Regions from separate parts of the Homo sapiens genome. Here region 1 is linked to region 2. The links come from fine-mapping of genetic effects on gene expression. A gene starts in region 2. The other region holds a variant in brackets. All regions are shown on one strand. Distances are between the middles of the regions.

What was found. PIP is the estimated chance that this variant, and not a neighbour inherited with it, causes the effect. A credible set is the group of variants that fine-mapping cannot tell apart.
Region 1: its variant is the best candidate, but not a certain one, in a credible set for the expression of SAP30L in whole blood (INTERVAL, PIP 0.86).

What each region holds. Positions count from the first base shown.
Region 1 is chr5:154,490,292-154,495,666 of GRCh38, reverse strand. It overlaps the pseudogene LOC100128833 and the pseudogene LOC100271907. Among named protein-coding and RNA genes, the nearest start is that of HAND1, 15 kb to the right of the region's middle. The variant C/G (reference allele first, on the strand shown) is at 3,331.
Region 2 is chr5:154,442,673-154,448,047 of GRCh38, reverse strand. SAP30L (SAP30 like) reads right to left here and starts at 2,051. Exons shown (of 4, transcript NM_024632.6): 1 at 1,243-2,051. The coding sequence starts at 1,443. SAP30L-AS1 (SAP30L and GALNT10 antisense RNA 1) reads left to right here and starts at 2,226. Exons shown (of 3, transcript NR_037897.1): 1 at 2,226-2,310; 2 at 4,568-4,686. RefSeq lists silencers at 1,408-1,517, 1,648-2,177 and enhancers at 1,754-2,254, 2,308-2,427.

The sequences.
Region 1 (5,375 bases), 48 kb before region 2:
TTAGTGGAGAAAAGTTGCCATGTTTGGACAGAGATAAATGATATTCATGTTGTATGGTTTTAATATACTAGTACATTCTAGAATGTAAAAGGATTAATTTAAACTCTACAATTTACATCAATATTTTGAATATGTAAATTTTTTATGGGAGACTGTATTACATTTTGCTGAAATTAGAACAAAGTAAAGAGAAAGGGCAAGAAAGCAACATTGCTGATCTCTCTAGTATGAAAGATTTGGAGGGAGTGTGGCAATATATATATAAATGAAAAAATGTAATTGTGTTCATCATATTTAAAAATAGAATATGTGACTGGGCACGGTGGCTCACGCCTGTAATCCCAGCTCTTTGGGAGGCCAAGGCGGGTGGATCGCCTGAGGTCAGGAGTTCGAGACCAGCCTGACCAACATGGAGACACCCCCTCTTTACTAAAAATACAAAATTAGCCAGGCGTGTTGGCACATGCCTGTAATCCCAGCTATGCGGGAGGTTGAGGCAGGAGAATAGCTTGAACCTGGGAGGCGGAGGCTGTGATAAGCTGAGATAGTGCCACTGCACTCCAGCCTGGGCTCCGTCTCAAAAAAAAGAATATACTAAAGAACTGTGATATAAAAGTACTCTGTTAATGTAAAAAATAAAGCAAGTGTAATTCTTTTAGAATATAAAATTTGAGCATTACCTGCTGAGCAGTTCCCAAATTAAGTACAAGGAATGTATATTCATTTTCTGCCATATACTGTATGTAACAGGGAATACCTTGCTAAAATGATAAATACTTAGGATATAGTGGTAATGGCTTTCACATTTTTATAACATAACTCACTACACGCCATTCTTGTAGCTGCCCACTCTTAGAAACTTTGTTGCCTAATATTGAGGAAGCGGCTTTAATTTCTTCCATTTGGCAGTGTATGTCTATAGTGGAGCATGAAATTGGCTATGCATTGCTATTGCCTGCTGAAGTTTCTCTTCCTTGGCTCTTCTACAGTGGCAAATTGTTCTCTTTTCCATGAAGCTACTGAGAAAATCATTTATTTCCATTTTTCCCTCCACAAAGTCTTCCACAATATTATCAGGTTCTTCCCCAGCTTCATGTGCAGCTACTTTCAATGTTGCCTGTAGGGCACTTGCACTACAGCTCTCACTAAGTTCACACTGCCTTTGCATCTTCTTTTTGAAAGCAGACTTCATTTGTTTAAGTAATTCATACTTATCTAAAACGGTTTGCCTTTTGGCTCCCAAGCTGGGCTCCAAAAGGATATTTTTTTCTTGCTAGTTCCTCAATACTTTTTACTAAGTCATCTTTGTCAGTAATAATTTGTTTTAGTTGAGACAAAGTCAGAAACTGTTCTAGTAATACCTCCTCTTGTTCATTCATATCTGTGAGTCGTGACACGCTTAGTTCTGAGAGTTCTGGAAATGCATCAGAGACATCTGGCATCTTGTAACCAAAACCATTTTGGCTTGTCAATATTGAAGCATCTGTTGTGGAAATGGGTAATGGCAGATTTGAAAGGACACCAAATGAAGGAGCGACGGGCTTGGCTGTGGTATGACTTGTTGTTGAAGAAGAAACAGTATTAGCAACAGATAAAGAAGTGATAACTCCTCTTTGTTTCTTCTGGGGGATATGGAGGAAGAAATGGAAAACATTGAGAAGCATAAAGCGGCATCCCACTTGGGTTACTGTATAGGTAAGGAAATGCTGTTGCAGTAGGAGCTAAAACTGGAGGATTCTTCCAAAACTCATCCAACAGACTCTGAATAATTTTTCCAAGATCTGGGTGCATTGTAAAATTGTTTGCTAATGGAGAAGTAACATACACTCCTTGTTTATCCATTAAGTGATGTCGTATTGGTGGAAAAACACTGATCACTGGTTTTTCCTGAGGAAATTGTGGAGGAAGCAATATATGTTAATTGTCAGGTTGTTTATGGTGAATGGCAATCTGTATTCCACATCTTTCTGTATTTTAGCTATACTGGAGTGTGAGTTCCGGAGGGACTCGATCAGGCGTTGCTTCTGCTGCTGGAGGCTGGTAAGGCCACCGGGAACCCGGCTGCGGAGGAGGAGGCGCTCTTTGTCAGGTCCTCGGGCGGAGGCTCTGGAAGGCTCTGGCCTGCTTCTCCCAGCGGCTCGGCCCAGCGGTTCTCCTGCGACAGAGGACCGGGCTGGGACGTCCGTGGCCCAAGCGCTGGGGACCGCGTCTTCTCTAAGCCAGCCCTGCCTGTGCTTCCCGGGTTCTGGCGGACATGTTATGAATGGCGGGCAGCTGGAGAGGGGAACTTGCTGCCCAGAACAGGCAGTCCCACCTTCACCGCCCAGACGCCCAAGCCGGCCAGTTAGGCAGCCTGATCGCCCAGCGCTCCACCACCTGTGACGCCGTCTCTAAAAGGACTCTTTTAAAAAAGCATAGGTACAATGTCATTATCACACCTTTAGAAAACCTAACAATAATCAATAATTATCAAATAGCCACGTAATATGAAGTAAATAATATTCATTGACACCCCCACCCCTGAAAAAAAAAAGCCGGCCACCCATTGCTAAGTGAGAAAAGGAAAACAGAATAGACTCTGACCCCATTTTGGCAACATACACATCCTAATGGTAACAGTTATTTGGGGTTAGAAAGATTATGGATGGTTTCTTCTTTCTCAGGTTCTCGCATTACTTTTTTTTTTTTTTTTTTTTTAATTTTTTTGAGATAGAATCTCACTCTGTTACCCAGGCTGGAGTGCAGTGGTGCGGTCCCAGCTCACTGCAGACTCAAGCTCCTGGGCTCAAGCAATCCTTTCACCTCAGCCTCCCAAGTACCTGGGACTACAAGGGCACACCACCACATCCAGCTTTTTTTTTTTTTTAATTATTATTATTATTTGTAAAGATGAGGCCTCCCTATGTTGCCCAGGCTGGTCTCTAACTCCTGGGCCCAAGCCATTCTCCTGCCTCGGCCTCACAAAGTGCTAGGATTACAGACATGAGCCACCAGGCCCAGCCCATATTACTTTTTGAATTAAAAAAATAATACAAAGGGAAGAATAAGATGGTAGACTTCTTTTTCAAAGTCAAAATCCTCTGATTTAGGATCTAAGTATTAAGGGTTTATCCTGTCCCATCTTGAAATGAAGAAGACACAACCACCCAGAGAAGTTAAGGGTTTTGGCCACAATCACAGAGTAGGGGGAGGCTGTGAAGGAGAGAGGGGTATCCTGCTGGCTTCCCAGACTCTTGGAGAAAGCAGAGACAGAGGTCCTGGGACACCTCTCAAGCTCTGGTCCCTGTTGTCCCACTACCTTCACCCTCTTACCTTCCCATCTTTATCAAG[C/G]CTCACACGTTTGGGGCACTTTGTTGCTGGAGTTGACAGACCAAACGAAACAGAGGGGGGAGGCAGATAACCAGAGCCCTTTCTTGCCACACCTAGTCCTGTTGGCTTGTCAGGTCTGGAGGAGAAGGCATCTTGTTTCCCCAACACATTCCAGAGTCATGTCCCCCTGGCTGCCTGGCCTCCAGGCCAGGTCCCCCCAGCCCCCAAGACTTTCATGGTTGAGACAAAAAAGGAATGAAAGACTTGACATTGTTACACTCCTCTCTCCAAAGTCCCAGTTTTGCTGTGTGCCCTTGGGCAAATCCCTCTCCTCTCTGGGACTGTGTTTCTGCACCTGGACAGGGAAGTGGCTGGGATGGATAATTTCTGAGACATTCACCCTCCTTCCCCACCCAATTCTGATTTCATTCAGAGTTTCTAAATCTATCAGATATAGGAAGGAGATCCACCACACTTCTAAATGTCAGCTCAGAATCTCATGGCTTGGCCGGGCGTGGTGGCTAACGCCTGTAATCCCAGCACTTTGGGAGGCCGAGGTGGGCAGATCACGAGGTCATGAGATCGAGACCATCCTGGCTAACACAGTGAAACCCTGTCTCTACTGAAAATACAAATAATTAGCTGGGCGTGGTGGCGGGTACCTGTAGTCCCAGCTACTCGGGAGGCTGAGGCAGGAGAATGGTGTGAACCCAGGAGGCAGAGCTTGCAGTGAGCCAAGATCGTGCCACTGCACTCCAGCCTGGGCGACAGAGCGAGACTCCGTCTCAAAAAAAAAAAAAAAAAAAAGAATCTCATGGCTCATGCCTATAATCCCAGCACTTTGGGAGGCCGAGGTGGTCAGATCATCATCTGAGGTCAGGAGTTCGAGACCAGCCTGGCTAACACGGTGACAACCCGTCTCTACTGAAAAAACAAAAATAGCCAAGTGTGGTGGCAGGCGCCTGTAATCCCAGCTACTCAGAAGGCTGAAGCAGGAGAATCGCTTGAACCTGGGAGGTGGGGGTTGCAGTGAGCCGAGATTGGGCCATTGCACTTCAGCCTGGGCAACAGAGAGAGACTTTGCCTCAAAAAACAAAAACAAAAACAAAAACAAAAAACAAACAAAAAATAAACTACCCATGGCTGCCTTTGGCCATGGTGTGAAGGCCAGTCACAACTTTTCTGACGAAGGGGACAGGAGGTAGACATTTTACTTCAAGAGCCAGTACACTCACCACCCCCACACACACTTGAAATAAAAGTTTCATGCAATAACACACCCTTTCTTCATAAGATGCACTCTGATAATTTTTATTTATTTTTTTAGTTTCTGATTGCAATTCATTAAGATGTTTTCACAATCCACAAAACAGCCATCACTTGCACTTTGAAGAACACTGATTTATACAGCTATGCCCCAATTTCTTAGCAAGGTAGTACCAGCCAAGACAAATACAAGTAAATATATATATATTATATATGTGTGTGTGTGTGTGCATGTGTATGTGTAAATTATTTTTCCCAAACAGATTTCATATTAACTGTCTTGGCTTCTCAAACTTGAATGTGCATATGAGTCCCTTGGGATGTTTTTAAAAATGCAGATTCTGATTCATTAGGTGTGAGATGGGGCCAAGATTCTGCATCTTTGACTAGTCCCCTAGGTGAAGCATCTCAGATATTCATTTCACTGGTCTAACTGTTCTCACCGATGAAACCATTTTTTCTCGTGTCTTTCCTTCTTTTCTCTCTCCCTCTTTTTCCATCCTTCTGTAACTGTGTTTGGAGACTCAGTGGGTTCAAGTTGCAGCTCTGTCGCCTACCAGCTGGGGAAGCTTGAACAAGTTATTTAAATTCTCTGTGCCTCAGTTACTTTACCTGCAAAATGGGGGTAATAACTGCACTTTCTCCTGAAGTACTTTTGAGAATTGAATGAGATGATCCCTGTAAATTACTTAACGCATTCATTCAACAAACATTTATTGAATATTTATTACCAAATAAATGCTGTTGTTGCCAGCACTTATTTCCTTGTCCTAGGCACTTTTCCTCACTGACTGTCTCCT
Region 2 (5,375 bases):
GTCGAGATCTTGCCACTGCACTCCAGCCTGGGTGACAGAGTGAGACTCCGTCTCAAAAAAAAAAAAAAAAAAAAAAAAGAAAAAGAAAAAAAAAAGAAAAGAAAAAGGACAGGGGAGATTTTTTATTTATTAGAGACTTAATGAAGACTTATGTATAGGGCTTGGAAGTAAATTAGATAATATCTTTAAGAAATTAACCAGCCTCTTAGGTGCTGTGTGTACCTGACACCCTCACTTCCTATCTCTGGGCCTGTTTCAACCCTAAAATCAGAGGGGAAACGTGCACTCCCTTTCAGTTTAACAAGCAGTCTCTGATTTCCTCCAACTGTGGAGAAATTCTGATTCTAGAAGAGAATGGATGTTAACCACCTAAGCTCTTAGCTAGTCTACCTGAATATTAAATATCCCCTTAACTCATTTCCAATTCCTAATCATGAAGCAATCACTTAAGGCTTGTAGCAACAGATGTCAAACTAAAAAGTTCTTAATTGGTTGACAATAGGCACAGCTTCAGAATTGTTAACTAGAAGTGGTGAAGTCACACGGGAGGAGTTTCCTATAATAAGCCACAAAGAGCAGGGCAATCCGATTTAAATTTAAATATCCACCCCCTTATTTCAAAAGAAACTACCACTAAGAAAATTGATTTCTTTTCTTCCCCCCTCCAGTCACATCGACTGCAAGAGCCATTTCTCAAGACCTGGCCTTGGCCTTATTTCTGCCACATCCTAGAAAAACCCATTCCCACAGCTGCCTGCGAAGCAGCTAGCTCGGTGACCCTCTGCTGATACCGAGGATGCGGGAGCCAGGGAAGTAACTGCCACCTTTCTCTGTCTGAAGGAATAACAGGGTTCCTAGAAGGAGAGAGAAGTTGGAAAAGAGCCGGGTATCTTCATCACTCCCCGCTCCGATTCTTGCTCCTTCAAGGGCCAACAAAACTAACCCACCTCTCCCTGCTCTAAAGTCTAAACCAATAAAACAAGTTGGAAACTGCTGTCCAATCTTTCCAGGCAGCAGGAGTCCTGAAGCCCCCGCCCCCATCCTCCCGGATCTGGGTAGAATCACAGTCAGAGCATGTCAGCGCTGGAGCGGCCTTTGAAATGCGGAGTCCAACTCAGTTCTGCAGAGCCGGGGCGGCGAGGCCCACGGCGGGGAGTGCCCGGGGAGTCCCGACTGGAGCCCAGGGCAGCGGACGGAGAGCTGGGGGCGCCGGGGCCCAGACGCGAGCGGGGGCGGACTCACGCTCTTGTCGATGTCCAGCTTGAGTTTCTTCTGCGAGATGCTCTTCTGGACCCTCTTGCTGAAGGAGGCGTTGCCCGCGGGCCGGACGCAGCGCTCGCCGTCCTCGATGAGGCAGCAGCTCTGGCCGTAGCCCGGGGCGGCGGCAGCTGGGGCGGCGGGGGGCCCTTCGCGGCTGTCCTCCTCCGTGCTGAAGCCGTTCATCTCCCCGCCCCGGGCCGGTCCCTCTGGGGGAGGGTCCCCGGTAGGCCACTCCGCGGCCGCGCTTGCCGCGGGGCAGGTCGCTGAGACCCCCGCAGCCGAGGGTCCCAGAGTCCGTCTCCAGCCCGGGCGCTGCCCTGCCCCGCGTCCGAGAGGCCCGGCTCCCTCGGCCCCCGGCCCTCCGCCTCCGGAAGCCCCCTTCCTCCCGGCTCGAGGCCCCGGGGTCGGCTCCCGCGGCTCGCAGGGCCCCGCCGGGGGTCACCCGGAGGAGCCTTCTGCCGGGGGCCCAGAACCGTAACCCTGCAGCGGGGGTGTCCGGGAGGGCGTCCCAGGAAACAGCCGCTCCCCAAGGACTCCGGGCCTGGGTTGCCAGGGGGTTTCGAAGGCCCCTGCCGGCTCCCGCCTTCTTTCGGCAGCGGGGCAAACTCGCTGCCGGGCAGCTCCCCCGGGGTGGCGCGGCCTCCTCGCGCGGGGCCCGGCCTCGAACCCGCGGCACCCGGGCCCCGCGGCTCGTCCGGCCCACTCCACCCCTGCAGCCACTCGGCTGCGCCCCGAGTCCCGCGGCAGCCCCTGGGCCGCCCGGCCGCCGCCCGCCGAACGCTCCGCACCACAACAGTTCGCTCCCCCCGCCCTTCGCGGGACAGCGGAAGTCCCGCCTTCACGCGACCATTGGTCTCATTTGCTCTCTGGGCGGGGCTGCCGCCGCCGCTGGCGCGTCCCATTGGGCGTCGCCGCCGCCAGTCTCCGGCGCCAGGCTACTTCCTGGACTCTGCTGGGATGGGTTCAAAGTAGAGAAAGTGGAAGAGGAAAGAGTTACCCCAGCGAGAACCGGGAACCGGGCTGCAGACTCTCCGGCCCGGGGGAGGGATGGTGAGCAGGGGCCTGGCTGGACCGAGGGCCAGACTCCAGGAACAGAGGAACACATTCGGGGACAGACAGTAGAGACGCGGACGGGGACGCTGAGGGACAGACTTGGAGGAGGGGCATATGAGGGGACCTAAAGAGGATAGAGGTGCTATCAGGAGAGGGGCGGACTAATAAAATGAAAGGGCCAGGGCCAGAGGACTCGCGGATCCGTGGGAGGAAGGGTGGGTGAAATAGGACGGAAAGCCAGTCATGGCGGGAAAGACAGAGGGACAACCCCATACAGATACGTGGAAAGACATGCGGAGGAGGTGATGGGGGGATCTTGCAAGGCAGTCGCAATATTGGGGGTAGCCGATACCTTCCAGAGTGTGGAGAGTGGGACTGGCTTGGACGGCGCGGAAAGAAAAGGAGAGGGGGAAAGGAGACCCCGAGGGGTTTGGGCGACCCCTCCACTGGGAAGAATGGGAAGTCCGAATGAGGTCTGGAGGGTGGACTAGGTGAGCCGCGGGCAAGAGAAAGGGCTTCAGGGGAGATGAAGTGAAGGCTGGGAGTGGGGCCCAGGGGCCAATCTCGGAATCTAGATGGGGAAGGGCTGCGGTGTCTTGGGCTCTCCCTGGAGCTCCAAGCTGTAGTTCTATTGCTTTGAGTCCCCGGGTCTACCGGCGAAGCGACTGCGCCCTGCCAAGACCCTGCGCTTGGTTTCGGCGCCCAGGGCACCACCTCCCCTCCAGGAGGGGCCGTAGGATATGCTCTGGTCCAGCACTTCAGTCATGCCACTCTCCAACTGCGCAGCATGGGGACTGATGAGGTCCGAAAGGCGATGGGACCAGCCCAGGGTCGTGTAATTATGTAGGGCTGGGCAGCGTTTTATGGGCAGGGAAGAGGGGAGGCTGTGTTAGGTGATAGGTAAGCAAGTGTTAGTACTAGAGGGCATAGAAGGAGCTTCGGGTTTGTGTCCTGTTGTAAAAGGGAAAGCTACCAGTTTCCATGTTTAGAAGCAGGTGGCTGGTGATCTTAAGTTTTGCTCAGTGGCCATAAATGCATTTGTAGCATCTGAACTGGTAATTTCACACGTGGGACAGCCATCGTCGGAAATAGGCCTATCAGAGATAATATGAAGTACAGTGATGTTCATTATGGAATTATTTATAATAGGAAAAATAAAATAGAACCTCAGAGTTCCAAAAGGGAAGTGGTTAAGTAAACTACCTAAAATCTTCAGAAAGAGATTGTGCAGTTAGCATTTGAGGTAGTTTCAACATCAATGTAAACATTTTCTATAGAGAATAATTCACCATTAATTCTTAAATAAAGAGCTGATGAGGAGTTGGAGAAATGCTTTTTTTATGATAAGTAAAAAAATTCAGGATATGAAATTGCATGGAGGATACGATGTCTGTACATCTATGTTTAAAGAAAAAAGAAAACTATTGGTATAAAAAATGCACCAAAGTACTAACAGTGATTATTTCTGGGTAGCAGGAATATGGCTGATATTTTTCTCCTTTTGTTTAACCTTTGCATTTTCTTTAATAAGCATTATTTTTGTTTTTACAGTAGAAAAAATAGAATAAAAATTAATGGAAAAAAGGCACAGATTAATAGGAGTCTTCCCTCAGAGTTCATATATTCTGTTCAAAAGTAAATTGTTGTTGAACTCATTATGTATACCAAGTATAGGGTTGGCTATAGGAGGAGGATGAAACATAACCCTTGCCCTAAAAGAATATCTCCTATCTGGGGTGTTCAGACATATATGTAGAAAACACTTGGGTATCTGTACCAGGCACTGTGTGATGTTGGGTCCAAAGTCAGTTGGTATGGATGAAACCTCCATGTTCCCCATATTTTTCTAAACAGCATTTGTATTCAATGCTAGGCTATTGCGGTACACAACTTCTTCTGCACCAACTTGCCCTGGTCTAAGGGGATCTAGGACCTTTTCTTAGGTGCTCTGTCTCAGTCCTTGAGGTAGTGGCTACTTATATCTGCTATTCTTGTATTATTTAGCATTCTTTTTTCTTTTTACTAGGCAGTTCCTTATAACTGTAGGGGACTACAGTCCCCTATTATAATTAATACATGTTTATATTATTATTTTCCTGTTCAAATTACTGTAAGGTTACTCTTTCCTGATTACACCCAGCCTGATACGCCCAGCCAGCCTCTGTGTGTGTGTGTGTGTGTGGTGGTGGTGGTGGGGGAGTTCATGCTTGTAACTGTTCTTTTTTTTTCTTTTTTCTTTTTTCTTTTGAGACAGAGTTTCACTCTGGTTGCCCAGGCTGGAGTGCAATGGCGCGATCTCGGCTCACCGCAACCTCTGCCTCCCGGATTCAAGCGATTCTCCTGCTTCAGCCTCCCGAGTAGCTGGGATTACAGGCATGTACCACTGCTCCCGGCTAATCTTGTATTTTTAGTAGAGATGGGGTTTCTCCATGTTGGTCCGGCTGGTCTCGGACTCCCAACCTCAGGTGATCTGCCCGCCTCGGCCTCCCAAAGTGCTGGGATTACGGGTGTGAGCCACCGCTCCCAGCCATTCTTTATGTATAATTTTGTAGTCTTTATTCAAGGCATACTTTATCATAATCTTTCCCCATATTGCTATGTAGTTTTCACAGTTGCCATTTTTTATGTAGTACAGTGCAGTTTCTGTAGTACAGTACACTGTGGTGCTAAAGACAGTTGGCTTTGCTGTCAGAACTGGGTTCAGATCTGGACTCCACCCATGACTTGTTATAACATGTTAGCAATTATTTCACTTCTTGAGTCTGATGAAATAGGTGGTGACAAATTCTTAACACAGTGCCTAGAACATCATAAGTGGTTAATAAATGTCAGCTATCATGATTCCTACCGTAGTTACATTTGCCCCCCCAGAAGTTGGATATCTTTTTTGTGTGGTTCTGTATAATTATTTTTGAACATAAAACTTTTTATTATTTAGGATTATTATTTTTTCTGAGTGCCAGAGATGGAATTGTGGTCAAAGACTACAAAGTTTTCCAAGGTCTAAGGGCCAGGCTCACTGACCCTTTTTTTCTTTCCTGTCTTTTCTGCCCCTGCCCTCC